Homo sapiens: one gene and its partners. The protein of the gene in region 3 interacts with the protein of the main gene of each other region in a biochemical or structural test. Each region holds a gene or a part of one and is shown on either strand. Other genes may lie near its edges. The genes, in order: ABCC4, RASSF6, PDLIM3, MAP2K2, ARHGEF16, SLC15A5 and PBK.

The links.
Region 1: the proteins of PDLIM3 (region 3) and ABCC4 interact in a test that uses a peptide from one of them, tested with the Homo sapiens proteins (one large-scale study listed by IntAct).
Region 2: the proteins of PDLIM3 (region 3) and RASSF6 interact in a test that uses a peptide from one of them, tested with the Homo sapiens proteins (one large-scale study listed by IntAct).
Region 4: the proteins of PDLIM3 (region 3) and MAP2K2 interact in a test that uses a peptide from one of them, tested with the Homo sapiens proteins (one large-scale study listed by IntAct).
Region 5: the proteins of PDLIM3 (region 3) and ARHGEF16 interact in a test that uses a peptide from one of them, tested with the Homo sapiens proteins (one large-scale study listed by IntAct).
Region 6: the proteins of PDLIM3 (region 3) and SLC15A5 interact in a test that uses a peptide from one of them, tested with the Homo sapiens proteins (one large-scale study listed by IntAct).
Region 7: the proteins of PDLIM3 (region 3) and PBK interact in a test that uses a peptide from one of them, tested with the Homo sapiens proteins (one large-scale study listed by IntAct).

The regions. Positions count from the first base shown.
Region 1 is NC_000013.11:95,161,251-95,165,670, forward strand, and holds part of ABCC4 (ATP-binding cassette sub-family C member 4), read right to left. Parts: intron 3,269-4,420; coding exon 3,128-3,268; intron 2,398-3,127; coding exon 2,360-2,397; intron 1,967-2,359; coding exon 1,872-1,966; intron 86-1,871; coding exon 1-85. UniProt on the Homo sapiens protein: ATP-dependent transporter of the ATP-binding cassette (ABC) family that actively extrudes physiological compounds and xenobiotics from cells.
Region 2 is NC_000004.12:73,609,998-73,614,417, forward strand, and holds part of RASSF6 (ras association domain-containing protein 6), read right to left. Parts: intron 3,247-4,420; exon of another isoform or gene 3,133-3,246; intron 1,833-3,132; coding exon of another isoform or gene 1,799-1,832; coding exon 1,734-1,798; intron 1,680-1,733; exon of another isoform or gene 1-1,679.
Region 3 is NC_000004.12:185,518,082-185,522,501, forward strand, and holds part of PDLIM3 (PDZ and LIM domain protein 3), read right to left. Parts: intron 1-4,420. UniProt on the Homo sapiens protein: May play a role in the organization of actin filament arrays within muscle cells.
Region 4 is NC_000019.10:4,096,387-4,100,806, forward strand, and holds part of MAP2K2 (dual specificity mitogen-activated protein kinase kinase 2), read right to left. Parts: intron 3,029-4,420; coding exon 2,815-3,028; intron 958-2,814; coding exon 893-957; intron 1-892. UniProt on the Homo sapiens protein: Catalyzes the concomitant phosphorylation of a threonine and a tyrosine residue in a Thr-Glu-Tyr sequence located in MAP kinases. Activates the ERK1 and ERK2 MAP kinases.
Region 5 is NC_000001.11:3,463,776-3,468,195, reverse strand, and holds part of ARHGEF16 (rho guanine nucleotide exchange factor 16), read right to left. Parts: intron 2,049-4,420; coding exon 2,003-2,048; intron 1,395-2,002; exon of another isoform or gene 1,282-1,394; intron 1,029-1,281; coding exon 859-1,028; exon of another isoform or gene 846-858; intron 1-845. UniProt on the Homo sapiens protein: Guanyl-nucleotide exchange factor of the RHOG GTPase stimulating the exchange of RHOG-associated GDP for GTP. May play a role in chemotactic cell migration by mediating the activation of RAC1 by EPHA2.
Region 6 is NC_000012.12:16,267,040-16,271,459, forward strand, and holds part of SLC15A5 (solute carrier family 15 member 5), read right to left. Parts: exon of another isoform or gene 2,874-4,420; intron 1,787-2,873; exon of another isoform or gene 1,256-1,786; intron 1-1,255. UniProt on the Homo sapiens protein: Proton oligopeptide cotransporter.
Region 7 is NC_000008.11:27,820,181-27,824,600, forward strand, and holds part of PBK (lymphokine-activated killer T-cell-originated protein kinase), read right to left. Parts: intron 3,026-4,420; coding exon 2,883-3,025; intron 2,309-2,882; coding exon 2,139-2,308; intron 515-2,138; coding exon 385-514; intron 1-384. UniProt on the Homo sapiens protein: Phosphorylates MAP kinase p38. Seems to be active only in mitosis. May also play a role in the activation of lymphoid cells.

The DNA of each region.
Region 1 (4,420 bases), on a different chromosome or scaffold from region 3:
TGCAAAGTTTGTGAAGAGTTAACAAGGACGTAGAATACCAATAGAGATCTTGCTATGCCAAAAAGAACGGTAGCTACAGTTAAACCTGAAATAAAGAAATATCACTTAGAGAACACAGCATATCTCTGCATTTTCTTCAATAGTTGCTAAAGCAAGCCAGGTAGTTTATAAAGATGTTACTTAATTTATTCCATAAAGCATCTGGATTCTACATAAGTATAATGTATTTACAAAATACATTGACAAAGAAGGATTAAAATAGTTTATTTTTCTCTCACTGAATGGAAACTGCACAGAAAAGAAAAATCAGGTGTATAATACAATTTCATTCTAGGCTCTAATTCAATTGCAAGTTCTATTAAAAACTCAGAAGTAGGATAGATAATCATGAAGTGTAGTTGATCTTCTCCATATTCCAAATCTTATTACTTACATTATGTCCCATAATCTAAAAAAGGTGGTATGTTTTGATACCAACATGTGATATTAACAAGGAATAGGAGAAATGATTTACCTTTTCCTTGTAGAAAATGCCCAAGTAGCTTTAAAGAATTTAAAAATACCGTATTAAGTTGCATGTGGAAAACCTCTTGAATAATTGAATTGCAAGAAAACACAAATTATATTTTAACATAAGATAATTAATCTAAATAAGCAACTAATCCCCCACTGTTTTACATAGACACAAGACATTTTTAAATGAATAAAATAAATCATACATTTTATTAAGACATGAATGAGGATCCATTATTCACATAGAAATTAAAAGAGCTTTCCTAACATCTCTTCATTCACAATGCTAAATACAGTGGGGGTAACTTCTATAACAAATATTTCCCTTTCAGATGACATGTCACTGTTATTTAACCTCTGAAAGCAGCTCAAATTCCTAACTCCATCAACGGGCATTATCCTTAGCCTGCCATCCTACACGAACATAATAGAACATAATAGATTTCCTTCTTCCTTTAGTTTCCACATAGTCCATCAGTTGGAAGGTAAACACCTAACAGATTTAGATTTCTTAGCAAGCGATCGATGAAATAAACACCAAATTTCACTGAGTAGGTTCTTACAAAGATAACTCACTCTATCTCTGAGGAAAGCTTGTAGGAGCATTTCCTGTGGAAATATTTAAAATTTTAGATGAAGATTTTCTTTAAACAGTATGTAATGCTACATACATTCTAAGCACTCTTGTGAAAACAGAGTGTGGCGTTAATATTAGTCTGGCAAGCCAAATGTTAAATTAATCACACAGTTGGGGACGCGATAACATTGTGATCTCAAGGTAAGAAATAGAAGGCATCCTAATTCCCAGACACTGGATTTTTCCCTGCTCAGCTTCCCTCTTAAGTAATTAGTGAAGCCCAGGAGATGAGCAGTGCTGAAGGGAGCTTTGCATACCTGGGAGGGAATAATGCTTTTATTTTGGGGGCCTTGCTGCCAGAGGATTTCATCCAAGTTCAATAAAAGCCAGGGTTTATTTAGACAGAATTGGAACCATCCGAACCACAGGGTGGAGATCCGTTTCTAATCCCCCTGCCCATCCGTATAATGATATAAGATTTAGCTAAAGCAACCTATTAGAATAGACAATAGCCACATATTTCCAGTGGCTGATTTTCTGAATGCTCAATCCTGGTTTAACTTTCAAAATCCAGTACAGAGCAAATTAAGAGTCTTCAGTCAACCTCTCTTCTAGTAGATTTTTAAAATAATTATTCTAATTAATTCACAGAGTAAATTCGACTGAGACTCCTGATCTGTTAAGACATTACTGAATGACTCCTGGAAGCCCTAGTTACTCACACAGGCTCATTGTAAGCACCTCAGCCTCTCATACAATACACCAAATGATTAAACTTTACCTGAATAAATTCCTAAGTACCAGTTAAGATCTAGCTTCTCGGTTACATTTCCTCCTCCATTTACAGTGACATTTAGCATACTTTGTTTGTTTGCCCTATGGAACATGGGGAGAAAAAAATATTAAGCTATATATGAAATTTAGATAAATACATTTTTTTAAAAATGAACCACAATTTGGGAGAAACGCTTCATGCTGGAAAATGATTCTCAGCTCACTTAGTCTTGTGTATATCTACCTTATAAAAATTCAATTTAAATCACAACTTTCAGTTCCCGAAACTGTCTGTGAACATGATGCCGCGGATCAGACATGGGTGGAGACCACCGCAGTTTACACTCCACCAGCAAGCACTCTAATTTTTCTTCGGGTAAACGAAGTGAGGATTAGAAGAGAAGGATCAACAAACACCTCCCTCTAACTCTATGGAAAAGCGAGTCTTCTTACTGATTTTGGAGTATTTCATACATCAGACCAGAAATAACTTACCAGTATGAAAGCCACCAATCTTGAAGCACATAGGCAACCTAGGAGGGGAGAAACAACAAAGACAAAAATCAAACTTGGGCATGACTTACCAACTCAAAACTCTCAATCGCTAACATGGACAACCGAAAGAAAGCCCTCAAAGCCGGGCGTGGTGGCTCATGCTTGTAAACCCCAGCACTTTGGGAGGCTGAGGCAGGCGGATCAACTTAAGGCCAGGAGTTCGAGACCAGCCTGGCCAACATAGTGAAACCCTATCTCTACTAAAAATACAAAAATTAGCCTAGCTGGGCATGGTGGCACATGTGCCTGTAGTCCCAGCTACTCCGGAGGCTGAGACAGGAGAATTGCTTAAACCCCAGAGGCAGAGGTTGAAGTGAGCCAAGATCGCGCCACTGCACTCCAACCTGGGCAACAGAGCAAAACTCCATCTCAAAAAAAAAAAAAAAAAGAAAGAAAGAAAGAAAGAAAGAATAAAAGGCTCAGAGAACTCGCATAGTTCTTCCAGCTCAGGTCTGTGCCAAGCCCAAACTCCCAGATATCAAGGGTTCAAGAAAATGCATATTCCATTTTAAAATCATTGAAAGATACCCTTTTTTCGCAGGTCTTTGTAACGGACATGGAACACCAGTAGGCAGCCCTCACTTTGTTCCCCAAAGACAGCACATTTCAATTCAGACCCCAAGTGAACTGCAAGATGCAGTCATAATAGCATAAACATAGGTACTGTAAATATCATTTTGAGGGCGCAAAACAAATGTCATTATTTACCTGAGCTGCAGTGTTTAGGAGAATAAGGAAAATGAAGACAATCCAGTGAGCACCAGCTCTGAAGTAATTCTTATAGGCCTGAAAACCAACTTTTCCTTCAGAACGGTTCTCCTCTGATAGTGTAACTGGGACATTCTCTGTCTGCAGAGGAAAAAAGGTGGTAAGAGACAAAACAGTATACAAAACTGTTCCCAAAGATGACAATGCACTCTGTTGACAAAGCTGTGGGGAAACAGGCAGAAGTCCAAAATGATCCATCTCCTGTGGAGAAGGGTGTGGAAATAGCTAGCCAAACTATACATCCACTTATTTTTTATTTATTTAATTTTTTTTTGACTCAGAATTTTGCTCATGTTTCCCAGGCTGGAGTGTAGTGGCGCGATCTTGGCTCACTGCAACCTCTGCCTCCTAGGTTCAAGCAATTATCCTGCCTCAGCCTCCTGAGTAGCAGGGATTACAGATGCCTGCTACCACGCCTGGCTAATTTTTTGTATTTTTTAGTGAAGACAGGTTTTCACCATGTTGGCCAGGCTGATCTGGAACTCCTGACCTCAGGTGATCCTCTCACCTCGGACTTCCAAAGCGCTGGGATTGCAGGCATGAGCCACCACACCCAGCTATATGCACTAATCCTTGGACCCAGCCATCCCACTTTCAAGGTTCTACTAGAGATAAGGAAATATCATTTGGACATTGTGGCGTGGCTTGCTGGAAGGATGCCATCAGGATGTTCAGCACTTACCTAGCACACCCAAATTCAAGTGTCAATACAGAAACTTGTTCCAAAATCATATACAAAAAGATATGGAACTCTCAACTGCATCACTCAAGATGGAAACATAAAAGAGCAGGGGGTCAAAACATGAGCTCAACACAGTAACTGGGGTCAAGCAGTGAGTCTCAGTAACCAGAGTTTGGAAAGGAAGGGATAGCATATGATCCTAATCTATTTGGTTCCTGAGTTTCAGAAATTGACTCCTGATAATTTGGCATGTGAGGGCCTAATCTGAATATCTGCAAGAATCCTTCAGTCTCCTGGATTTGGATAGTCAGGGTTTGTGTGGCAAGGAATATCTATGCTTTTAAGTGAGCTCTGGTACATTTCTGCCCGGAGGACTTAGAAGGCATGAGATTCACATACTCTGAAGATGTATTGAGCAGCTCTATGCTGGCCACTGGGAACACCAAGGTGAGTAAGATGCAGCTCCTATTCTTGAAAGGTAAAGAAGGAAGTTGGGCTGCTGTGTGTCAGGAACTGTTGGGTCTTTGCACATGCTACTTCTGGCCTAACTA
Region 2 (4,420 bases), about 110 Mb from region 3:
AAGCAGGTGGTCCATGGACCTCATTTTTAAGAAATGCTTCTTATTCAATCTCAAATGTAATGTGTCCAGAACTGAATTCCGGATCCTCAACTGCAAACCTGCTCCTCCTGTAGCTCCTGCTTCTCCTCATGATTTCAGAAAATGTTAACTCCATTTTTCTAGATCAAAATTTTTAGAATTATCCTTGGTTATTCTCTTTCTCTCACACCCATGTCTAACCCTTCTGGAAATCCTATTGTGTTGGTCTTCAAACTATATCCAGAATCTGACCATTGTTTTCTACCTCTACTGCTGCCACCTTGGTTCAAGCAACCTTCATCTCCACCCTGGACTGTCAGCTCCTTGGTAACTTCTCTGTTTCCACTCTTGTCCCCTCTCTACTCTGTTCTTAACACAGCAGCTAGACTGATATTGCCACTCATGTGCTCAATATCCTTCCACAGCTTCTCATCTTATTTAGTGGGAAAGATCAAGCCTCATAATGGCCTATCAAACCCTACATGTTCTGAGCCCATTTGGCTTCTTCTCCTGCTGTCTTTCTACTTCCATTTCCCCACACTGTTCTCCCTGACCCTTACAAATATGCATCTGCCTTAGGGCTGTGGAGTTGCCATTCCCCTTGCCTGGAATACCTGCGAAAGCTGCATGGCTTGCTTTCTCCCTTTCTGCAGGCTTTTCCTCCAGTGCTTCCCGCTCACTGAGGAAGGAACTAGGTTATATGCAATCAGAACCCTTTCCGCTCTCTATCTCTAGCACTCTTTACTCCATTTCCTCAGCATTTATCTTATGTATTGACTGCATCCCGACTTTATGATGTAACTCCATGAGAGTAAGGGTTTTGTTTGGTTCATTACTGAATGCTCAGGGTCCAAAAATACACCTGCTCACAGTGAGTAATCAGTAAGTGTTTGAGGAATAAGTCAGTGGATCCTTTATCCTTTGCATCAGGTCTTTTTCCCACTGCTTATAGTTCATCCTTATCTTTCAGCTGTGGCTTTATTTCCATATTTGATCATATTTGTTTCCTTCACTTTCCTACTGCCCAACCCTGCATCATTCACTTCTCCTTCTCTCTGTCATTTATTTGGCTTTTTTCCTTTTTCCACCCCCCATAAGATTTGGGTCATGTTTCAGTACCACTTATTTTTTCATGATTTCATCTCCTCTCAGCCCCCAGCCTCTGCTGTAGCTTGGCCAGTTTCAGTTTTCATCTCTACTCTTATAGCTTTTAAGCCCTTACTCTATTGTTCCCAAAGCAATATGAGATACTGTTTGCTGCGTACAAGAAAAGCTGTGGATGTTGGCCATATATTGCATAATCTAATGTCAAGAGGGAACCAGTAAAAATAAAGTGTCATGAGGAGCAAGGGATGGAGAGGTTAGGACAGGACATAATGTTTTTGGCCCTGGGGTTAATTCTTTAGAACTATCATTTATGAGAAGCCTTAGATCTTTCACCTAATGCTGCTCTTCAATATTATCCCAACTATTAAAACAGAAATGTTGCTTTTAATAAAGTAAAACCACTGTTAAACAAAATATTAGTGATTGTTCCATGAGAGTAAATTTGAGAGTCTTTAGGAACATACTTTTCCAACTTCTTATCTAGTATCTCTACTGATGATTCATATTATTGATCTTGTTGACCATACATCATGCTTAGAAAACTTTGACGGTATATTCCACAAATGACTGGTGAGTAGGACAATGTATAATATAAGGTGTGTGGTTACCTGGTTATGAATGTCTTCTCATTAATGAAGATCCAAGAGGGGTACTGGTGAGCCATCATAGTCATCTTTTCCTCCTTTTTGAGATGGTCTGAGGATATCCTAAACATGAGAATAATATTAATGATTTGTTCCTATAATGCATTAAAAAATTAGTTTCTGATTTAAGTTGAGTGTTTTGTTGTGTCTCTAGAGTATAAGAAGGTTTTAGAAAGTTTTTAAGTAGTATGTCATGTGTGAGCAAAAATACAGAAAAATGTATTATGTAAATGAAAAACTACAGAAACAGTAACTCCAGACACGGATGGATTGAACAATTTGGTAAGTCTGTTTTAGATATATTTCTAGCAAAATAAATATGACTCTATTGATTTATATAATTCTGTATAAGGGAGCATATTCCTTCTATTGCAATAACTCACCCAAACTGGCTGAACCTTGCCCCAATCAGCAGAAGACAACTGCAATTCTAGGCAGCTAAAATCAAGCTCTGACTTGAAGAGTTGATTAGGTATGATGTAATATTTTTCAAGTCTCCTTCAAGCTCTGGAAACTGTGGTCAGATGTGAATAATCTCCTCCTTTATATGTTCATATAAATGGCATTAGGGTGTGACCAGAGATGTAAAGTATAATATTTTCTGTTCATTCCATTTTGCAAAAATTGAATATTCAGTTATCATGGCTCCAAGTCTATAAGATTTTAGGGGATAGAGCCAGAATAAAAAAGATGGATGAGAGAGTTCAGTTTTCTTTTTTTTTTTTTTTTAAAAAAAAAAACGTTGTGTATAAGGGGGTGGATTTCCTCCTTTTCCTTTCAAATCTGGTTATTTGGGTTGGGTAAGATGAATAAAAATTAGGAAATTATATGTCCTAACTCTTCAGAGTACCAGGAAAAAAAGAAAACAGGAAAGCTATTCTTCTATTCTCATAAAATCTCTGATGCATATTTTTCTTTATAGCATGTTGTTAAACTCACTAGGTACTTTGTTACAGTTTTCAGGGTGAATGCTTGGCTGGAGTCTCATTTTAGGCTTTTATCATTCCGATCATCCCATCACCTATTTGGTCACAAACCATCTTGGTATCTTTCTTAATAAATACAGCCCAAGTCCCTTAACCTGACTCTCAAGTTTTCTTCAATTCCACTCAAACCTACCTTTCCAGGCTCCAAATTGAAACATTTCTTCAACACCAGGCCTTGTAATCTAATGAAATTTCATGTCATTGAGTCTTTTCTCACCCATTTCCCCTGGCAGCAGAGGGCCCTCCTCACTGCAGGTCCAGATATCTGGTCCCTTTTAGTCCCCAGTGGGAAATCTTAAAGTCTCCCCATGTCCTTTGAATCCACACTGTTGTCATCATTCTGCTTTCTACCTTGTATTGTCATTATTGATTTATACCTTACTTTCTTTTCTATTGCTATCTTCTTGCTCAAAGAATTGTGCTTCTCTAGTTGGAAATGGCATCCTCTGATAGCACATCATTGGCAGGTCTCATGCAGGACACCTGGAGGACTCATACCAGAGACACAGAAGCTTAGTCACCAGGCAAAGTAATTCTATACGTCAGAAGCCACATGGGCATTTTATGCTGCCTTGGGCACACAGACACAACATGCTCCATGAGCCCAGTGAATCCCAGTTACTTATTCACAGGATTTGGTCTGGGCAACTTGGTTATACAGGTTACACAGGTTCCTCCAGCTTCTCAAACTTGAGTTTTGCCCCTGGATTTTGTCATTCTAATAACCCACCAAAAGGGTTATTAATGTCCCCGACTGAAATCCCCCAGTGATGACCCTGGGGTCCAAACACTTCCTTCTTCCTCCTGGGTCCAGATTATTTATCATATATTCCTTTAATTTAGCCCTACCTCCACCTCTCCATCCATGTTCCAAGAGCCTATACCTTGCCAAAGAGTTCACTTCTCTCCTCATTTCTCGGCCTCTTAGCAACATTTGACAAGATTGATTTTCCTACCTTTTAAAACACTTTCTTCTTGATGCTTTTGAGACAAACCATGAATAACAATCACCTCACTCTATTTTCCTGCTATCTCACAGGCCTCAACACTAGTCTCCTTTGCTGATTCCTCCTTTGTATGATCACTAAATACTGGCTTGTTTGAGTGTCCATTCTCAGCCATCCTTTCTTCTCTATCTATACATTCTTCCAGGTAATCGAATCTGTCTCCATCCCATAATCTCTGTTGAGCTCCAGACGCATGTCACCACCTACCTAATCTCTACTTAGATGTGTACCAGGCATCTCGATATCTACATGGCTGAAAAAGAACCACTGACTTTCTCCCATGCTCTAAAATTTCCTCCTCCACAATTCTTTCCCATCTAGGCATCAAAACTAATATTTAGTCTCATTTTTTCCCTCTTTCATCATAAGCCAAATTCAATCCAAAAGTAAGTCCTATTCACTGTACCACTAACATATTCCAAATTCGAAAGCTTTGATTTCCACTGCTACTACCCTAAGCCAAGCCACCATCATCTTTTTCCTGGATTATTGCGTCAGCCTACTAGAGGGCCTCCCTCTGTTGTGGTCTGAATGTTTGTGTCCCCACAAAACCTAGATGTTGAAACTTAACCCCCAATGCAATAGTATTAACAGGTGAGGACTTTAGGAGGTGATTAGTTCATGATGGTGGAGACTTCATGAATGTGGTTAGTGCCCT
Region 3 (4,420 bases):
TTCTTATTTCTTAGGAATTCAATATGTAATTATTCCCTTAATGGATACATTTAAAATTTTTATTTTAAATGTTAGAGGCTTATATTAAGGAACAACATTTTGAATTAATGGAATGCTAGAGCTGCCCCAGTGAAAGCTAAGTAACTTGACAGAACTCTGCTGATGTTAAGAGGATCCAACCATGGACAGCAGTCTCCCATGTCCTTGGAATGACCTCAGACATGACAGCAGTCAAAGGCTTCACCTTTCAACTTCTTACTTGGAGACTGCTCACAGATAAAGATTCAGATAATCTTTATAATTCTGAACCATCTCCAACAGAAACAGTATGTTTGATTCATAGATATACACACATATATGTATACACATATATATTTATATATAATATGTATACATATGTGTATATAAAATCAAATCATATATATATGAAAAAATGGTGGGCATATAAGAGAAACAAACTCTATGAAGTGATCTTATATTTGATCAAGGCATGATGAAGAAATTATATTTCATCACGTTTGAAGTTTAGAATCACTTCCTCCTCATACTCACCCCTCAAATAAACAGTAAAGTCACCCTCATCATCCTTTTTTCTCCAGTGAGCAGTTTCAAGTGTTTCCCATCTCTCACTGGGAAGAGCTTGAGGAAATGGTGACTATGAAAGCTTGTTTTATATGGGCTGCCTTCCAGTTACCAAAACACTTTTTATTTGTGAAAATAAAAATGACTTTATCCCACACTCTTCTTGACTGTGTATGTAAACTCTATTATCTTCTCTGGCAAGGATGCAATCCTTTTTATGGAAATGGAGACAGCTTTCTTCTTATTTAGATAAGAACCATTTTTGTTTCTGAAAGCATCTTTCTTGTATTGTGACAGGCACAGTATACCTTTGAGTTGTTCCACTAACATTAAGCAAATATGAGGGTTATGGTTTGAGAATGTAAGCTTTGAAAAAGGACAAAGAGCTTCATTAACATACTCTTAGTCAAGAGCAACACTTCGTACTAAAAAATGGACCATTTTGTCTATTTTTGTACAGAAAAATAGAGAAAAATAGATTGTGTTCAGGATTGCATGGAAGGCATTTATTCAGGTGCTGGGAGTTGATCTAAACAACAACTAACGTGCCCTTTAAGCCTAAGATTCAAGTCTAAACTCAGAGAAACAAAACTTAGCTATTTGATGATAGCATGGAAAAATTATTATTATTATTATTTGTGAGACGGAGTCTTACTCTGTTGCCCAGGCTGGAGTGCAGTGGTGCGATCTTGGCTCACTGCAACCTCCACCTCTTGGGTTCAAGTGATTCTCCTGCCTCAGCCTCCCCAGTAGCTGGGACCACAGGCGTGTGCCACCACATCTGGCTAATTTTTTGTATTTCTAGTAGAGACAGGGTTTCACCATGTTGACCAGGCTGGTCTCAAACTCCTGACCTCAGGTGATCCACCTGCCTCGGCCTCCCAAAGTGCTGGGACTACAGGCGTGAGCCACCATGCCCGGCCACATTTTAAAAATCTAGATATTAAAATTTTATATCAACTATTCCTATAACCATATAAGAAAATGTCTCCTTAGCTTAAACCTATTCACAGGGGAAAAAAACCCCCAGAAATAAACATACTAATATTTAATATCTGTGGCTGGGCTTGGATGGTATAGTTTTTTCCCCAATAAGTAAGTGAGAAAGTGTATTTTATTCCAATGTCAAAGGTCACATAACTTACAATAAAAGTTTGACTTGGGTTGAGAAACAAAAACTCAAATTTCATATTGTTCCATGGCCTTTTGCTATTCATCTGCAATGACATCCTGAAGCATGATAATATTAATGGCATTTGTTTCTCTAACTGACACGTATTTGCTGTCCAGAAGATTGCTGTATTTGCAGAGTTGTCATTTTGATAAAAAAGAAAAAGACATCTTTTTTGCACAGCTTTGTATTACTTAGAAAAACAAAAAACCCTATAACCATAGCTTAGCTTTTCTCTCGTCTCAGTCCACAAGTGAAACTCACTGTTTGACTTTTATCAGCACGTTTTGTTCTGGTTTACGCTAAAGGATTTTTGGATAGCAGGAGATACACTGCAATTTAGTTATTTTTGTGTAGGGAATGTCTGTCCTGAAGTACCAAGTTACATAAACTGGCCGTGCAGAAATCTGGCCTAAGAGTCTCATAAGGAGTAGAAATCCTTTGGTTCATTAGTAGAACTGAATTGTTCTTATCTTGGAGCATTTCAAACACCGGCCTCTTGGAGAGGATGTCAGTAAGAATTAGTCATGACGCAAAGTCATGGAATGTTTCAAGGCTCCATCTGACTGGCTGCTATAGCCCTTAACCTAATCTCAACCTTTAAAAAAAAAACAATTTAATCTCCTTTTTCTCATTTGTAGTATTGTAAATATTCATATTTTCTAACCCCCAAATGTAGGACACAAGGGCTAATACATGCTTGACAAGAGGTCAGAGTATTTAAAATTAGGATTATGCCTTAAAATCCCATCCTTAGAATAACCATAGTCATAAATTAATACTCATAGACTTGCAATAGAAGCCTCTGCTAGAGCTACAACTTGGAAAATTACCCTTAAACTCCAATTCTGGAGAGATGTTAGCAAAACGTGGGCTCCCATCCTGGTCTAAACTCACTTTGTGCTTAGTAAATACTTGCTGAATTACTTACATGCTGGGGTGACGGATGCAACCATGATGAAGGATCACTGGGGATTTGGTACTTCGGTCAGATCTATCTAGTTGGCCTCATTTCTTGCATCTCATATTAACGAAATTGGGTTTAAAAATTAGGAGAAATTCTTGCATGGAAAAATAAGTTGCAAAGGATGCAGTGCAATATTGGATGTGTGCTGTGTAGGGAAAAGGAAATGCAGAGTCCCTTCTGGTTGGTCCAGGTAATGATAAGAGGCTGAGTGGTCAATAAGTGCATGTCTATTGACTTTAATTCTTAAAAGCACCATATAGTCTCTTTTTCTCATGTGTCACCTCCAGGTGATAAATTGATGACGGTGGGAGGAAGCAGGTCAGCCTGGGCATCTCTGCAAAAGGCTAGATACAAGTGAGAACTCTACCTCAAGAACTTTCCTTTTTTCTTCCACTATTTTCTTCTAGCAAAGAAAATGTTGACTAGAGGTGTCATTATTCACCAGCCCACCTAGTATGTCAGGGGGAGTCGCCATCAGCATTCAGATCCCTTCTCATTATATTTATTATCTGTGCCATCCATTTTCTTTTGCTCACTTACCCCAAAGAGCAAAAGTCTTACCTAGCCTAAGTATCCCACTCAACTTTCTTTTCTTTTCTTTTTTTTTTTTTTTGAGACAGGGTCTTGCTCTGTCACCCAAGCTGGAGTGCAGTGGTGCAATCACAGCTCACTGCAGCCTCGACATCCTGGGCTCAAGCACTCCTCCCACCTCAGCCTTCTGTGTAGCTGGGACTTACAGGTGTGTACCAACATGCCCTGGTTAATTTTTAAAATTTATAGAAATGGGGTCTCACCATGTTGCCCAGGCTGGTCTCAAACTCCAGGGCTCAAGCAATCTTTTTGCCTCTGCCTCCCAAAGGATTATAGGTGTGAGTCAATGCGCCTGGCCCCACTCAACTTTCAAGATTACTTTCCATGCAACAGCTGAGAGTGATGGCAGAACACCATTTTGAGAACTGGCTCCCAGGACAGGTCCTGGCAATGTTAGAAAATGCACAGCTCATTTTTAGGCCCTCCAGTTCCTTTCATCCATTTGTCAGCTATTTATTGAGCTGTGGGCTATTTATTGAGCTGGAGGGACTCAGAGGGAAGACAACAGCCTCAAGGTTCCTGCCTTCATGAACATATTCTCTGTCCTGCTCACTCCTTTTGGGGCTTATTTTCTCCTACTTTTGCTTTTAGTGGATTTTAGATTCAGACTCTACCTTCCCTTTAGTCAAAACTCTACGACAACAATCTAATAAACTCATTTCCTCTAAAGATTACATTACTCAGGATCCTTCTTCTCCAGGAGAGATTATATTTTAACTGAAAATAAAGCTTTGTTCCATTTGTCACGACCCTCGTAATAGCAATGAAGAAGGCATTCCTAGCCTCTAGGATGTCCTATCATGTAGGCAGCTAACTATCTCACCAGCAAGAAACGCCAGGAGACTTTCGGATCCCAGCCTGGGGTGGGGGTAACGTACTGATAATAAGGACAGCTACCACTTACTTGAGTATTTCTATGAATAACTCAATGTGCCAACTTCTCTGCTTGTATTATTTTATTCTAATTTTTGAGAAGCCCTAGGAGACACATGTACTGATGTTATTCAACATCTTTTCACAAAAGAAATCAGAGGCTTATGGAGACAAGTAGAAAACTTGAAGGACAAATTCAGGAGTTGATTTTCTTGAAAGGGGAAATACTGCTAAAC
Region 4 (4,420 bases), on a different chromosome or scaffold from region 3:
GGGCCACCAAAGACACAGAAACCCACAGAAGGCCCAGGGAGGTGGCCCGGCCTGGTCACGTGGCCAACAGGACCTTGGGGTGCAGTCCTGTGCCTCCCTGACAGCTGCAGGCCTGGAAGGAGGCCGCGTCCCTCCTTGTGCCTTGTTTTACTCATCTGGGCGGTGGAAACCCTCATACTGTGGCTCACTGGGTTGTTATGGGGACTGACGGAGCAGGAGCCACCCCGGGACCTACAGGTCCTTCTAGGCTCTCTGGGCCTCCTTCCAAGAGGCAAGGGCCATTCCTGTACCTTTCTCCGTGGAAGCGGGGTGATTTATGAGTCCACGCCCACGGGCGCCAGGACGCTCTGATGCAGAGACACTGGGCCACTGCTCAAGGGGCAGGCTGGCTCCTCGGCCTGAGCCCAGGGCTGCTGGCACACACCTCCCTCTGGACTCAGGGTGAGAGGCTGCGGTGGGAATTCTGGGTTCGTCTTCATAAAAAAACAATGCCCTTGGGAAGGAGCTGGGCTTGTGCAGCACAGTAGAAGATGGGAGACGCGACACACGTGGAATTGGTTCAAGAATTGCTTGAACCTGGGAGGCGGAGGTTGCAGTGAGCTGAGATCAAGCCACTGCACTACAAAGCTAGACAATGTCTCAAAAAAAAAAAAAAAAATTAGCTGGGTGTGGTGGTGCGCACCTGTAATCCCAGCTACTCGGGAGGCTGAGGCACGAGAATCACATGAGCTTGGAAAGTGGAGGTTTCAGTGAGCCGAGAAGGCACCACTGTACTCCAGCCTTGGTGACTCTTGCTCTGGTCAGAGAGAGACTCTGCCTAAAAAAAAAAAAAAAAAAAAAAAGAAAGAAGAAAGAAAAGGAAAAGAAAAGCCAAAAGGCATCAAGCACAAACCTCGTTCACAATATAGTCCAGGAGTTCAAAGATGGCCATGGCAGGCCGGCTATCCATCCCGTGACCTGCACAGGGAGAGAGATGGAGGTGAGATGGGCCGATGGCCACCTCACTTCTGCTGGGGGTTGGGCTCCCAGGGGGCTGATCACCACCAGGCGCCCTCCTCCACATGCCAGCCTAAATTGGAGGCGGGTGTGCAGAGGCACTGGACAAAGCTCCCCTGCCTGACTCTGGGTTCCATTCCCTGGGACAGCTACTCCTTGCCTGAGCCTCTAGTGAATTAAAAAAAAGGCAAAAGGAACAAGAACATTTTTTGAGAAGTCACACATTTGGCTCGGTGAGGCTTGCCGGACGTGCCAAAGTCATCACCCCTCCTCTCTGGAGGGCAGGGGGAGGGACGGTGCTGACCGCAGGCAAGGACAGCCGCGTGACCTTGCATGGAGCTGCTGGCGGTGATGGGGGCAGGCCCCAAGTGCCACTCAGGACGGGAGACTGGCTAGGGGTGGCTGACCCCTGTCTGAGAACCAGCTGGCCAGGCCTGGGCTTGGCAGCTGGACTTTCGCCTTCTGCCCGTCCTGAAATGGGCAGGTGGGCTGGGGCCCTGGGCTGGGGATGGTATACCACCTGAGAGTTGGGACTGGGAGAGGCTGAGGCTAGGCCTGAGGATAAGGACTTGGGGGCCTCTCCCTGGGATGAGATCAAGACATCCCAGCAGTCTGGCTGGAGAGGAGGAGGTGGGCTTGCCAGTGCTATGAAAATCTCCTTCTCACAGCCCCAATCCATCCGGGTAGGACCACAAAACGTGGCCTGTTCGTGTCATAAAATACTACTCAGCCTTTCAAAAGGACCCAGGCTCTGACACGCACCATGGCGTGGATGACCCTTGAGGACACTGCGCTCCAGGAGAGAAGCCACACACAAAACACAGAAGGCCACACAAGTGTGTGACCCCATTTCTGTGAAATGCCCAGGACAGGCCAGTCCAGAGGCAGGAAGGGGATGGAGAGTGACAGCTGATGGGGACAGGGTTTCCTCTTGGGGAGCTGAGAAGGTTCTGGAATTAGAGGTGATGGGGCGCAGCACTGTGACTGAAAACCACTGAACTGCTCACCTGAAATGAGTTGTGGGGTGTGTGCTTTGTAGTTCGGAAACATGGTTTTAAAACCAACCACAGTCCGCTACAGGGTCCTTTGGGGTCTGACGCCACCAACTCTCCCTGATGTCTGACTTTAAAAAAAATCACAGGACCCTCCTGTGATTCTGCACCAAGCAGGGTCCGCCCCCGGCTCTTCCCTCAGGCGGTGGAAGTGTCCGCTCGGCCCTCTCTGACTGGCGTCAGGGAGCTCCCGCTCCCGAGGTGCCCGCCCTAAGTGCCGGATTGTCCTCTGCGAGCCCAGCTGTCCCTGGGGCCTGAGCCCTCCCGCCCCCTCCCGGGCTGTGTCCCCTCCTGTGTGTGTTGGGGCCGGAGCCAACAGGCCACTGAGGGCCATGCCAAGTCCAATCTCCACTTCAGGACTCCCTGGAAGGCTTGGCCCGCAGCACAGGAGCGTGTCACCTGCAGAATGCAGGCTCTGTGGCGGCCAATTCCTTCCACTTTTCTGTGCGTTTGAATGCTTTCGGGATAAAATGTTGGAAAATCCAACTGCCCAGGGGCTTGGTGGCAAAGCTGCGCTCCCAGATCCCTCCAGCTGGCAACAACAGGTGCAGCTGCCCCGGACAGAACAGGTTTGGGGTGCTCACTGCTTCCAGCTCTGTCCCCGGAAACCCCAGGACCATGGGAGGACTGCTGACCACAGTCGGCACCATCCAGGGGGACAGGTGGTGCGCCAGGGGCAGAGGGGAGGCAGCTGCTGACCCTGGCACAGCAGGCCCCGCGCAGGGCACTGCGCGTCCAGACCGGAAGTTGCAGATTCAGGCCGTACCGCTGACGGGGCGCCCGGGGGGCCTCGGCCGAGGCGAGATGCTGTGAGGCTCTCCTTCTTCCCCGTCGACCACGGGCCGGCCAAAGATGGCCTCCAGCTCTTTGGCGTCGGGCGGGGGGATGGGGTACCTTCCGACGGCCAGCTCCACCAGGGACAGGCCCATGCTCCAGATGTCCGACTGCACCGAGTAATGTGTGCCCTGCAACCGCTCCGGCTGCAGCAGAGCCAGGGAGGAAAGAGCCCAGAGGGGCGAGGATGGCAGCTGGAACCCGGGAGGCTTGCCCCGTTACAGCCCCCGTCACCCTCTCCATGGCTAATGACCGCAGCAATGGATAGAGAGCTGTTACGCAATTCTACCTCCCGGCTCACCCACCCAGGGCCTCCCTGCGGCACTTGCTGAAGAGGCTTCCAGCCCGAGGCCTGGAGCTGGTGTTGACCGCAGCTCTTGAAGAGCCTGCAATGCTCAGCACTTTTGGGAATGGATGATGGGCCCCAGGAAGCAGGGGCCTCCTCCTCCACAGCTAACATCTCAGAGGCTGCTCCAAGGCTCAATTTGGCAGGTTGCTGAATCCCCAGTCGTTTCCTGAAAGACCCCAGATTCCAATTCCTTGGTCCAGAAATTAACTAAGGGCCGGGTGCAGTGGCCCATGCCTGTAATCCCAGCACTTTGGGAGGTTGAGGTGGAAGCCCAGGAGTTAAGACTAGGCTAGCCAATATGGCGAGACCCCATCTCTACTAAAAACATTTTTTTAAAAGTTAGCCAAGGCTGCCGGGCACGGTGGCTCACGCCTGTAATCCCAGCACTTTGGGAGGCCGAGGCGGGCGGATCACAAGGTCAGATTGAGACCATCCTGGCTGACATGGTGAAACCCTGTCTCTACTAAAAACACAAAAAATTAGCCGGGCGTGGTGGCGAGCGCCTGTAGTCCCAGCTACTCGGGAGGCTGAGGCAGGAGAATGGTGTGAATCCGGGAGGCGGAGCTTGCAGTGAGCGGAGATGGCGCCACTGCACTCCAGCCTGGGTGAGAGTGTGAGACTGTGTCTCAAAAAACAACAACAACAACAAAAACAAAAACCAAATTACCCAGCTGTGGTGGCACATGCCTGTAGCCCCAGCTGCTTGGAAGGCTGAGGCAGGAGAATTGCTCCCGGGTGGGAGGCGGAGGTTGCAATGAGCCAAGATTGTGCCATTGCACTCCAGCCTGGGTGACAGAGCAAGACTCTGTCTCAAAAAAAAAAAAAAAAAAAAAAAAAAGAAAGAAACCTGGTAGGCACTGCTAGAGACAAAAACCTAAGAGAGAATTCCAACAGGAAGGGGAGATCTGGCCGGGCGTGGTGGCTCAGGCTCACTGCTAGTGGAATCCCAGCACTTTGGGAGGCTGAGGAAAGAAGGTCACTTGAGTCCAGGAGTTCATGAGCAGCCTGGGCAATACAGCGAGACCCCGTGTCTACAAAAGATTAGTAAATTAACAAATAAAAAATAAAGAGCAAGGGGAATCCGAAAAGCAGGCTCCCAGGAGGCACCAGCTTTAGACGTGCCTTGTGGCAAGTGGGGAGAGCTGATGAAGGGGAGGGTGCAGCTGGGGTGGGACTGTCCCGGGGGTGC
Region 5 (4,420 bases), on a different chromosome or scaffold from region 3:
CGGAAACTCTGGCAGTTACCAGGGTGCGGTACTGGACTCCATCCCCGACAGAGGGAGACCACACGCCCCCAGCTCCCAGCAGGAGAGTAAGACTGCACTTCTAGGCCTTTCTATCTGTGGGGAGGCTGCCCGCTGCCTGCCCTCACCCCACGCTGGGCCTGCCCTGGCCGGGGTCCCAGGGTACGCAGCACCATGGTGTGTGGTGGGTGGTTGCAGTGCCAGCCCCTCTGAATGGCGAACAAGGAGCCCCATTGTACCACAGGTGGGGGCCCGCCCTCCCCGCTGCCCGCCACGCCCACGGCCACATGGTCCCCTCCCTTGGGCCTCAGGGTGCGGGTCACATGCCGGTCCACCTGGGGTAGGAGCAGCCATCTCCCCCAAGCATGGGGACCAATGCCGGGCCACGCTCTCCACTGAGACCCCTGCAGGGCAGGGACGGGCCCCCAATTTCAGATATGGAAAGTGAAGGAGTGTCTTGGCCCTGGCCCCAGCTCCAAGTCCCGGCCCCTCCCATCCCAGCTGTCTCCCTACGCAGATCATTCAGCCCTCTCCTGGGGCGGGGGCCCTGGGAAGGGACTCCTGGCGCCCGCAGCTCCCTGAAGGGTAGTCTGAGCAGGGCTGGCCCTCGCACGCACGACGGCAGGGCCCTGCATGGGCAGGGTGACTCTGAGGGCACAGGAGGGAGACCCCCAGGTCTGCCACCCACAGCCGAGGGGCTTCTGGGAAGGCTGCCCACCCTCCCTGGGAGGACTGGGCTGCTGCTGGGGACCAGCCGCCTGGGCTTGGGGAAGGAACAGCAGGGGGACTGTGGCTTCTCCCTGCCTCTGTGGGGCAGCCTCACCCACCCTCCGGCGCTACCTCTGGGAGCTGGCTCCAGGTGACCTGGGCGGGCCGGTAGCTCTTGACCACAATGGTGGCGTCCACCTTCTGGGTTCCCTCGGGGCTGGAGGACTCATCGAGGATGTCGTCATCAGACTCCTGGCTGGTGTTCAGGCCCCGCTCCTGGATCTCCTGGTAGAGCTGGGGGTCTAGAGAGAGAAGGAGGGTAACCTGTGGCCCTGGGGGATTGCAAAAGGCTGCGCCTCCCTGCAACCCGCCAGCTGAGTCCTCTAGGCCCACAGGCTCTCACGGCTGTGTGGGAGAGGGAGGCTTTGGGAGGGGACTGCCCCAGGCTGGGCACCAGTCCCAAGACCTCTCCTATGCCACAAGTCCCACCTGAAATGGGCTGGTCCCGGCTCAGGGTGCCTCCAAACCCTCACAGCAGCCCCCAACCAGCCTTACCCTGAGACGTGGGGCATCGCTGCTGCCTCCTGGGGACACTTCCCAGGGATTTCCGTAGAGGAGACCTGGGTACCCCCTCCTGGGCCCATGCCTGTCCACAAAGCTTCTGGGGGCTGGAAGGGGCCATTGTGTCTTGGAGCCTCAGGCCTGGAGCTGGGCACTCGAGGCCTTAGCCCTCCCCGGGCTTCATTGCCTCTAATCTCTTTACACCCCCGGGCATTTGGACCCAGGTAGCAGGCACCTCCCTATGTCAACCTCCCTGTGGGATGTTCTCATCTCCCCCGAGCAGGCTGAGTGTGCACCACCGCCACCCATGCTGGAGGCCCCAACACATGGCTCCCCTTCAGCCTCGAAGAGTCCGGGCAGAGCCCGCGGTGTGGGGCCGGTGCCCTCTGATCTGGCCTTGGTCCCCCAACACGGCCACTGTAGGCTGGGCCCAGCACACACATGGGGTGTTCAGGGCAAGACTGGGGGCTCTGTCTGTACCCTGCCCTTCAGAACACACAGAATAGAGTCCAAGGGAACTTTCTAGACCTTTCTAGACTCATCAGGGCTACATGAACAGACCAGCCACTGGGACCTCAGCCTCTGGAAGGACCCTGTCAAGCAGCTTTGGTGACCCCGAGACACCAAACTGAGGCCCACCCGAACCCCAGGGTGCCCCAGTGAGACCAGTTTCAACTGGAGCCCAGCCCGCGGTGCCTCCCGAAGCCACACTCACCGTCCTTGAAGGAACCCTTGTGCCCACGTTTCCTCCCCAGCGTCTTCTGCACAAAAGAGAGACACAGAAACCGCAGCTGTCAGCCGGGGCAGGTGTTGCCCACGGCGATTCTGCCCTGGGACCCCAGAGACCTCTCGGCTCCACATGCGAAGCTGTGCCCAATAGATGTCAGCTCCACAGGGCCTCACGGCCGCCAAGCAGAGGCCAAGAGAGGTGGGAGGAGGGCTCAGAGCAGGCAGGACACGTGACTGAGGGCTGCTTGGAGGAGGAGGAAGGGTTGAACTCATCGTGAGGGGACGCTCAGAAGAGTTTCGAGCAGGCCCGTGGCAGGGCAGGTGAGGTTGGGAGAGGGCTGTGAAGGGACAGTGGGGCAGGACACAGGCCCCTGGGGACTAGGACCTGGTGGGACAGACGAGCAAGGATTGGCCAGTGTCCAGCCCCAAGCATGGGTCTGGGGGCCCCAGCAGGAGGCCGGGATGGCAGAAGTGACGGGAGGGCTGGGCTCCTGGGAAGCCCCCACGCTCAGGTGCCCGACTCGGAGCCCACCCTCCTCGGCTGGGACACCACACTTTCCTGACGCCACAGGTATGCTGGTTCCCGGAAGGAAAGGGGCTGATTTCTCGGAACGAGTTGGGGCCTGTAAACTCCCCTTACTGGTTGGGAGTGTGTGGTGCTCCCAGCTGTACCTGGCCTGGCACCCTCAGCCCCGTGCCCCGCACCCCACCTCAAGGACTCCCCCAGCCCCCCTTCGGCCTCCAGGTCTGGCTGGAGCTGTTGCCTCCCCCACCCCGACTCCGTCCTCTCCTCCTGTCTGCCTCTGCGCTAACCCTCCTTCCTCCGGGACCCTACCCTGACCCGAGGCCATGGGGAGCCCCCTCCTCTGTGCTCCCAGCACCCCCGAGCTGCCCTCAGCCCAGCCCTCGGCATTCTCCCTGCGCTGGAGGCCCTCTGAGAACCAGGCCCATGCCCGTGGGCTCACTTTGGAACCCCAGCACCAAGCATGTGGCAGGTGCCCAGAAGTGTCTGCTGACTGCATGAAATAAACAGTGAATGAATGAACGGAGCCCCATGGGCCTGGGCCTGGTGGGTGTAGAGAGTGCTGGGGCCCTTCCAGCTGCTGGGGTGCAGGGGCCTGCGGCAGAGGTGCTGAGGCATTTCTGAGTCCTGGGCGTCTCAGGTAGGCACAAGAGAGAGCTGTGACCGAGGACAGTGGCTGGTGCTGGGGACATGGGGGACCCCACCTCAGCCACCATCGGCCTGCAGTGGACGCCCATGGGACATTCTGACAGGTGGTCTTGGCGTCTCCTGAGGCTGGCACTGCCACTCCCAGTCTGGGCAGGAGCTGGGCCTGAGGAGGCAGCTGGGACGGCAACCAGTGAAGAAGACGCTCTGGCACACACCTTCCGTGGACACTGCCCAGAGGATGCCCAGAGGGCGGCTGTGATCTTTGCTTCCACATGGGGAAGCCAAGGCTCAGGAAGGTTCAGGAACTCATCTGGGTCACACAGCACCTGCCCCCGCCCTCGTCCTTCACTGAGGCAGCCCATATGCTTGGGGCCTGTTTTCCAACACGTCTGAGCAAGGCGCCCAACAAGAAGGACGCCCCTGGGGCCAGCCCTGCATCTGCTCTGCATTCTTGAGGGTGCTCGGGCTGCCAGGGCCTCCTGATGGGCGGTTCCAGGGCAGCTCGCCTCCCCTACCCCAGCCCTGCCTGAGCCCAGACCCACCAGCTAAAGAGACCAAGCAGGGTGGCCAGAGTCGCAGTCCTGGCTGGGTGGGTGTCCAGGTACCACGCAACTCTCCCTGAACGTGGCTTCCAGCTCCAGGGCTGCCTGAAATGAAGGCCTGGCCCCCAGCCGCAGGGGATGGTGACTCCGAGGATGAGGGACACTGGGCCCAGGAGCCCCAGCTGGACGCTCTGTCCCCTGGGCCCTAGTGACACATGCAGTCAGGCTACACCCTGCCCAGCAAAGGGTCTGCCGCCACCATGCCCCAGACCTAGAGCCACCACCAGCAGGCAGGGAAGCAGGGCTCTGTGTACAGAGGGAATGTGCAGACTTCTCCTAAGCCCCAGGCCACCGCACAGCTGCCCCGCTTCAGTCCCTCCCGCCTGAGTCCCTGTCTGGAGCTGCCGGGGCAGATGGAGCCCAGGCCAGTCACTGCAGCCAGGTCACCCTGAACCCTATCATCCAGGCAGGCCGGCTCCTGTCCAGAGCTCGGAAACAGGGACTGGGCCCTTCCAGGGATCTGCCCTCCACCAAGGCTGGGAGCGGGGACACCAGAGTCTGGGGGCCTCGGTAGAACCCTCGACCTTTCCGAGCCTCTGCTGCCTCATCTGTAAGGTGGGATCTTCACACTCACAGACTGGGCTGAACTGGAATAAACCAGTCGAGAGCCCTCATGCAGCAGGTGCTTACT
Region 6 (4,420 bases), on a different chromosome or scaffold from region 3:
TTTGTCATTTCTTAGACTGGCCAGTTTTGATGTGCTTCGTGTTTACTTTTGGTGATTTGAAGAGAAATTATTTAAATGGTCTTTCCTAATCTGAGACAGTATCAAAGAAAGAAGGCAAATTTTCTATAAGTTTCAGGTCTTCATAGCATTAGTGTACCATTTAAATATTCCAGAGAAAGTATTTTATTCGACATTGATCAATGTTCAGATAATTTTCCAGGGGATTTGTGACTCTTCAGTGGGATAAAACTGAACTGTTTAGAGGAGTCAGTGAAATAAAATACTTGGGCACCGATTTCATGGTGGATGGCTGTTGTCAATCATTGCTTCTTTTAGCATAACCATTGGCCACTGAAGTACTTCAAAGAATATTCTGGCAGCCAAATATTTGGAGAAAGAAGGGGAAAATAGAAACTTTAGAGTTCCTTTTTATCTGTAAATACATATTTTTTTTTCCAGCAGAGCTGTTAAAGACAATTTAATAAAATATTGATTTTGGTAACTAGACATTAGGATTGAAGAAGTTAAGTTTTTAATTTAAAAATTTGGGGGACTGCTTTACTCTCTCTCCCAAGCTCTCCCTACCTCTCTTACTCTTTAACCTGTTTCATTCCCTTTCTGTCCTTTCCCATTCCCTCTCCCTCCTTTCCCATTCCCTCATTCTTTTGCCAACAACCCCCGCCCACCCCCCACCTTTTTTTTTTTTTTTTTTTTTTTGAGATAGGGTCTCACTCTGTCACCCAGACTAGACTGGTGCAGGGTGTTCACAGCTCACTGTAATCTCAGCCTCCTGAGCTCAAGCGATTCTTCCGCTTCAGCCTCTCAAGTACATGTGACTACAGGTTCACCCCACCATGCCTGGGTAATTAAAAAAAAATGTTTTTTTGGTAGAGATGGGGTTACTCAGGCTTGTCTCGAACCCCTGGCCTTGAGTGATCCTCCTGCCTAGGCCTCCCAGAGCCCAGGGATTCAGGTGTGAGTCACTGTGCCTGGCCAACACCCAAATTTTAACAGTTGTCCTGACTCATGTACCTTTCAAGCTTAAAAGAGAACATGCGCCCGGCTCTGTGGCTCATGCCTGTAATCCTGGCACTTTGGAGGCCAACGTGGGCAGATTGCCTGAGCTCAGGGATTTGAGACCAGCCTGGGCAACATGGTGAAACCCCATCTCTACTAAAATGCAAAAAAATTAGCTGGCGTGGTGGTATGAACCTGTAGTCCCAGCTACTTGGGAGGCTGAGGCAGGAGAATTGCTTGAACCCGGGAGACGGAGGTTGCAGTGAGCTCAGATCGCAAAGGTAAAGAAGGAAGTGCTTGTTGTTATTAGGGTGAGAGGGTAGCATTTGTTAAACTTGGCTAGAGCCAGTGCAAATAGAATTTGGGAAGGTCTGGTGATTTTTTCATAGCTATTTACAAGCTACTACTCCTCAGCATGCAACTCAAAGGACATTTTGAGTATTAATAAGATTATTTCATGAACTGCTTTGATTTTGTTTGCTGAAATGTACCTTATAAATTATGATTTTACGATTGAAGAGTATATGTAGATTTATATTTTTTTCTCTCTCTTTTCAGAATTATGTTGAATTTCTCAATCAGGCAGATTTCTAAATGTGAGATAATTGCTATAAAATTGTCAGAAAGTTCCAAAGCAGTCTGAAACACAGTAGTGGGTTCAATCAATGATTAGTTTCATTTCTTTTCAAAGGCATCACTAGATTTTCCTTATGGCTCTGGAGTTGTTTTCAAACTTTGTTCTTCTGAATCACCTGAAGTACTTGATATGGTAGGAATATTTCTGTCCCCTCAAATTTCATATGTTGAAATCTTAACTTGGTATTAGGTGTTATACCTCCTATAACAATGGTATTAGGGAGTGGTGTATTTGGGAGGTGGGGCTTTTGCTCATAGGGGTGGAACCCTTCTGAATGGGATTAGTTCCTTTATAAAAGAGACCTCCGAGAGCTCCTTTGCCCCTTCCACTATGTGAAGACACAGTGAGAAGCCAGCAGTCTTACAGCCAGGAAGAGAACCCTCACCAGAACCCTGATCTCAGAATTCTGGCCTCCAGAGCTGTGAAAAATAAATTTCTACTATTTATAAGCCAGCCAATCTCTGCTGATTTGTTATTGCAGCCTGAATAGACTAAGACAGTACTTGTTTAAAATATGCATTTCCCACCTGTCCTCCCAGAAAATTCTGATCCAGGAGGTTCGAGGTGGGACCTGGGAAACATTTTCAACAAGGTTCTCAAGTGATAATTAAAATGAGCAACACTGCGTTGGAACAGTGGTTCTCAACTCTAACTGGGCAGCTTTAAAAAATCCTGGTCCCTGGATCCTACCTCTAACCAATGTAATCAGAATCTTTGGTGGCAGGACCCAGGCATTTGTACTTTTTAAAAAAGAATCCTCAGGTGGCTTTAATATGCACCTAGGATTGACAATCATTGTTCTCAATGTTCTTGTGAATATTAAAATAGATTCTGGAAAAATGCTGTGGGATAATACATTTTTACCTCTAGTGCTTCCCTAAGATAAAATATATTTAATTTGAGTAAGTGTTAAAATCAGAATATTTCAGATACCATGTAGAGTCAATTTGAGTACCAGATAGTCAACATTTCTGGGGTGAAATAAGTCAGTCTCTAGACTTTCTTCAAGAACTTTACCAATATTCTATTTGGGCTTTTAATCATGTATATAATTCACCCTAGTAACCCCTTAGCAACAGACTGTGATATGCAGATAGGATGCAAATTATCAGGTGAAGAAAGTAGAGAAATGCAGAAGCAAGATTTGAGGTTAATTGTGGTAGAATTTAAAATTGTGGCCAGGAACAGACTTCATTATCCTCCTTCTTTTTGCTTCCAGAAAAGAATCTGCACAGGTGTATTTACCTAGGTGATCTCCAGTATGGCGATTCTTAATTGTCCATCTCAGCTTTTGGAATATGTGGAAAGCCAGGCTCTGATCTGGATAATGACACAAGGATGTTGGCAGATTATTATGTCTCTTGATTTCAGGGAGTTTAGCTTTATTTTTGTAGTGAGGTGCATTAGTTGAGGAAGATCCAGTACCAGATGGTAATGTTGGCTGGGAGTGGTTTTCTCACCTACATTTGGCAGCTTTACTCGGAAGTGGTGCTTTCAGTGCCTGAGACTTCCAGTCTATGCTACTTAACATGATCATTGGGAAGCTTTAGGTGGTATAGAAGCAATGACACATCTCATTAAAGGTCCCATAACTATGAACATCTGACATCTGTGCTGCAAATAGGACTGAATAAAGCCTTCAAGTGGTTACAGATTCAAGGGGTATGTTGTTTTTTAAAGGCACGGCTGAAATTCGTTATATTTACCAGTCTTGTAATTTCTAGAGGCATTTTTGACTGGAAGACATAGATTACACATTAATAAACTGCTCCTTTCAAAGATGACCTCCTCCTAAATGGGTTCCCTCTTTCCCAGCATTTAGACAATGGTTTCAGCTGATGGCTTATCCATGATTTAGCAATAATCATAACAATAGCTATCATAATTTGATACCTATAATATGCTAGGATACTTTATATATAAGTGATACAATAGCTCTCCAAGATATTCCCACTTTGTGGATGAGGAACCTGGGGCTCTGAGGAATTAAGGAACTTGCCAAAGACCATAAAACTCCTAAGTGACAGAGCCAGGATTCTGCCAGCTGTCTGGTTGCCCAGTGGAGTCTCTGTCCATCTTGTCACCAGCCCCCGCACTGTGTACAGGAATGGAATCAGCATTCATTGCTATAAACTGCAGTAAGGTAAGTGAACATTCATAAAAGTTGGCCTGTAGTTTAGTATTTAAACTGGAAAAATAAAAAAAGGCAAGACAACCAGATTCAGCCTTCAAGGATCTTACCATCCAGTTCTTTTATCACATTAAAAAATAACAGCCTGATTCTTTATACACATTTCTAGATGCTTTAAATTTTTAAAATAGTGAGCTGTTTAGTGAAATCAGAAAATAATTTTTAAAAATCTAAATATGTTCATCCTAAATTTGGCCTGGTTCCTTACAGCTGCAGAAATTCATTTTCACCCCATTCCCCATCCCCCTTCCTGAAGCCCTAAAGCACACACCCAGTGGGAGTCCCCTCTGTTTCCCAAAGGAAATATTTCATTCATATAATGTCTCCTTTGTAATCAACACTGAGAAATGTCACTTTGATTAAACACAACTCTGAATGACTAAGACCACAGTACAATAAATTCTCCAGAGCTATCTTTCAGAACAACTGATTGCTCTCCAGTCTTAATCCTCCAGAGTCTTATTTAATCAAAATGATGTTGCTAATTAAGGATTAAAACCTCCGAATAGAATAAAAAAGAAGGATTTTTCTTTCTCCTTTGGGCAGGTCAAGGAGGCAGAATTTGCTGCAAGGAA
Region 7 (4,420 bases), on a different chromosome or scaffold from region 3:
TTCCAGTTTCTTCTACCAGTTTCCTAAATCTTGTCACTTTACTCATGCTAAATAAACCGCTTTACACAACCTTACTAAATTTTACTTTCTATTCCCAGATGCTTTACTGCTTAAAGATCCCAATCCAGTTAGAAATATTTCCCAAAGATAACTCCAGTTAAAATATATACTAATACTACTACTAATAATAATACAGTAATTTATACTGTACATGTGGCAAGGGAGAAGACTGCAGGCTGACTGGGAGAGAGAGAAAAAAAGGGGACTTTTTACCATATACTTTTTAAAAATAGTTTTTGATTTTTGATCCATGTGGACTTACGTATTTAAAAATGTAAACACTGTATTAAAAACAAAATTTTAAAACTTAAGAGTACAACTTACCAGTCATATTTTCATCCAGTGGTAGAGAGACTCCTACATCACAGATTTTAATTGTTTCAAAATCGCCTTTAATTACAACATTTGAAGACTTTATGTCTCCATGAAGCAGTTTCTTTTCTTGGTGCAGATACTAAAATAGTAAAAAATTTAACACATATGTGCAGAAACACAAACTAATAAAAAAATGTGATAACCTCCAAATATAACAACTTGAACTCCCTTCCTAAACTCTAGGTTTACATTTGTCCAGCGTTTCAAAATTTTTTTTTTTTTTTTTAAAACGGAGTCTCACTCTGTTGCCCAGGCTGGCATGCAGTGGCACGATCTCGGCTCACTGCAACCTCCGCCTCCTGGGTTCAAGTGATTTTCCTGCCTCAGCCTCCCAAGTAGCTGGGACTACAGGCGGGCACCACCACACCTGGCTAATTTTTGTATTTTTAGTAAAGACGAGGTTTCACCATGTTGACCAGGCTGGTCTGTCTCGAACTCCTGGCTTCAAGTGATCCGCCTGCCTCAGTCTCCCAAAGTGCTGGGATTACAGGTATGAGCCACTGTGCCCAGCATTTCAAAGTATTTGAAACAAGAGAAGGGAACATCCCATGTTATCTCAGTCTGCCATACTGACCAGAAGTCTAAAAGTTTATTTAGAAATAGATACTTCTGCTAACCTTTTATACTTATAAAATAAATAATTATAAGTTAACTATTTTTTTCCAAGACAGAGTCTTGCTCTTGTTGCCCAGGCTGGAGTGCAGTGGCGCGATCTTGGCTCACTGCAACATCTGCCTTCCAAGTTCAAGCGATTCTCCTGCCTCAGCCTCCCGAGTAGCTGGGATTACAGGTGCCGCCACCATGCCCGGCTCATTTTTGTATTTTTAGTAGAGATGGGGTTTCACTATGTTGGCCAGGCTGATCTCAAATTCCTGCCCTCGTGATCTGCCTGCCTTGGCCTCCCAAAGTGCTGGGATTACAGGCGTGAGCCACCACACCCAGCCAAGTTAACTATTTTTATATATAAGTATGTATATATACCGACAGCTTATAAGTTAACTATACTTATAAATTGGTTAACTTGGTAAGTTAACTAATCCTACATACTTTATATCAGAAGATACAACTGCAGATTTCAAAAGATACCACAATTTTGAGGCTAGTCTAGTAATTTTTAGAAATAATTTTGGAATCTTCAGTGAAGCATACATAAATTGTTGAGACCATGTGGGACAATGAATGACTAGGGCCACATGTACGTATAAGGATGTTTTGGTCAATGATGGACAACATATACGACGGTGGTCCCATAAGATTATAATATCATATTTTGATTTTACCTTTTCTATGTTTTGATATGTTTAGTCACACAGTACTTACCACTGTGTTACAACTGCCTATAGTATTCAGTACAGTAACATTCTATACAGGTTTGTGGCCTAGGAGAACTGGGCTATATATACCACATAGCCCAGGTGTGTAGTTGGCTCTACCATCTAGGTGTGTGTAAGTACACTCTATGATGTCCGCACGCACAGTGATGAAACTGCCAAATGACACATTTCTCAGAACATATTAAGCTACACATGAATGTAATTTGGAAGCAGAAATGTAAGCCTCTATTTTGTTTTCCGCTAACCCCTTTTTGGAACTGACAAGTAACAATATCCATCCACATTCAAAGATGTCCTGCAAAGTGATTATTTGTTCATTTAAAATATGAACAAAAACAGAAGTCATTTAAAATATAATGACATAGTTACCTTTAACCCTCTTGCCATATTCAAAGCAACTTTTAAAATTATGGCTGCTGGAAAAGGATCTTGGCTGGCTTTATATCGTTCTTCTATTAAGTCATTTAGAGACTTTTCACCTCCATATTCCATAGCAAGACACAGACTGCCATCATTGGCTTCAGTAAAAGCACGATAACCTTAAAGAAAACATGACATTTCTTCACTAATATAGAGAAGAACAATAATATTTAAGTCCTTTATAGTAACGTGATTGAAAATATGGATCTGGACTAACGCTGACAAATATACAATGAAACAGCTACTATTTACAAGACTAATTCAGTAGATCTCATTTAAAATGCCTTCAGTGTTTGCCAGTAGTACCACAAATTAAAATACTTTTATTTTCCTTTGCTTCCCTAAATATAATAGTTTCACCAGCCCTACTTGTATTAAAAATGAAAAATGAAATCCAGGAAATTACCTAAATGGATTTAAATTATCTAAATGAAGATCATTTTATATTCTTAAAATCTTCATAGAACTAGCAACATAATTATTATATCTGTTCTCATGAAGTTTATATACTTAGGCATCAAAAAATACTATATGCAAATTTTTATTTTAGACCAATCACATTAATTTGATACCCATTAAATATCCAGCCCCATCCTCTTCATTTCTATTAGTGAAACCAGTTAAGAGAGCATATAAGCTGTTTCTGAATAAACAAAATAATATACCAGATACTGCTACCAAATTTAAACGTACCAACAATGTTTGGATGATGAAGGCTTTTCAAAATCTTAGCTTCATCCATTAGTCTCTTTTGATACACACTTCGATAATGATCATTACATATAGGATTAATCTTTTTTACAGCCCAAGGAGAATGAGACAAACCTCTTGGAGATCTAAGAAAAAAATTCATTTAAAAAGGATAGAAAACAATAAAACCACAATACTTTTTAAAATGACTTCCAAATTTTTGGGAAAAAGCTTGAAAGAAATTTGCTTTTAAAAACAGAATTTAAAATAGTTTGGACTATGAACACCTCTGCTACATTTCCATTTCAATTGGGAGGTAAGATCTAATATACTAAAACAAGTCTTACTATCTATACTGTGGAAGGGAGAGGATGAAAAGAATTTGAAGGGTAAAGATGGAATGTTACAAACTTTAAACCTGAAAATTGTAACTTTCCAATTTTTCCATTTGAGCATGTTGGACTACAACTTATTAAATATTTAATTATATGTATCAGAGATGAGTTATAGGATCCTGAAGAAAAAAACATTAGGAAATTTAAAGAAGAGATAATCAAGAACATTTTACCCATATATCATCATCCAAAGAACAGCATGCTGTTCTTATTGCTCCCCTACACTGACCAATTCACCTTATACCTTTTACCACATGCTCAAAGATATGTGCTTAAGGAGATAATGATGAACATACAAATGAGAAAATTTTAAACTTTCTATTTTCTAGGAAGATTCAGCCATTTTACAAATATTTAAGGTATAAATGTTTTAAGGCCTAAATAGGTAAAATAAAGTCAGGGAAAGGTTTACCTGAGGTGGTAGATATTTATGAGTAGAGCAAATCACAAAATACTTAAGTATATGCAGCATAACAGCACAAAACCTAGTGAAAGAGCCTCAGAAGTTTAAGACAGAAAGTTTAATGGTAAGAACACAAAACAAGAGATTGAATCAAAGATCTGTTTAGCTTTGGACTCCCTCACAGGTATAGCTCTAAGACTGCAGAACCTTTTTTGTTTAATCAAAAAGCCTATACTAAAAGGATCACAAGATTTCTTAATTCATGTACATCTATCATCCGTAAGTTGATCTAAACTATTCTTAAACCTCCAGTTTTAAATAACAGCAGCATTTGAGGATAATGATGAGCACCTGCATATCATTTTATTATGAAAAATATATTTTTCAAATTTCAAGGGTTGAAAGTTTAGCTCTTGAAAGTTTAGAATTTAGTAAACAAGTCAATCTTCACCTTTTCCATAACATATTCTAATCTATCGAATAAGAATAGATTTATGAAATCTGAATACTCAACCATGCAAAAAGCTGGTTCATTAAAAAGACTAATAGAAAAAAGGCAAATTTCTGATGAGATTACACAAGAAAAAATAAAGACAATATCACAAATAAAAATGGAAACAAAACTACAGATACAAGAGAAAAAATATGTAAGTAAATAAAATCTTTATGCAATCATTTAAGACAAAATGGTCAAAGACTTAGAAAAATCTAAGAAAACTGATGAATGAAGAAATTTAATCACC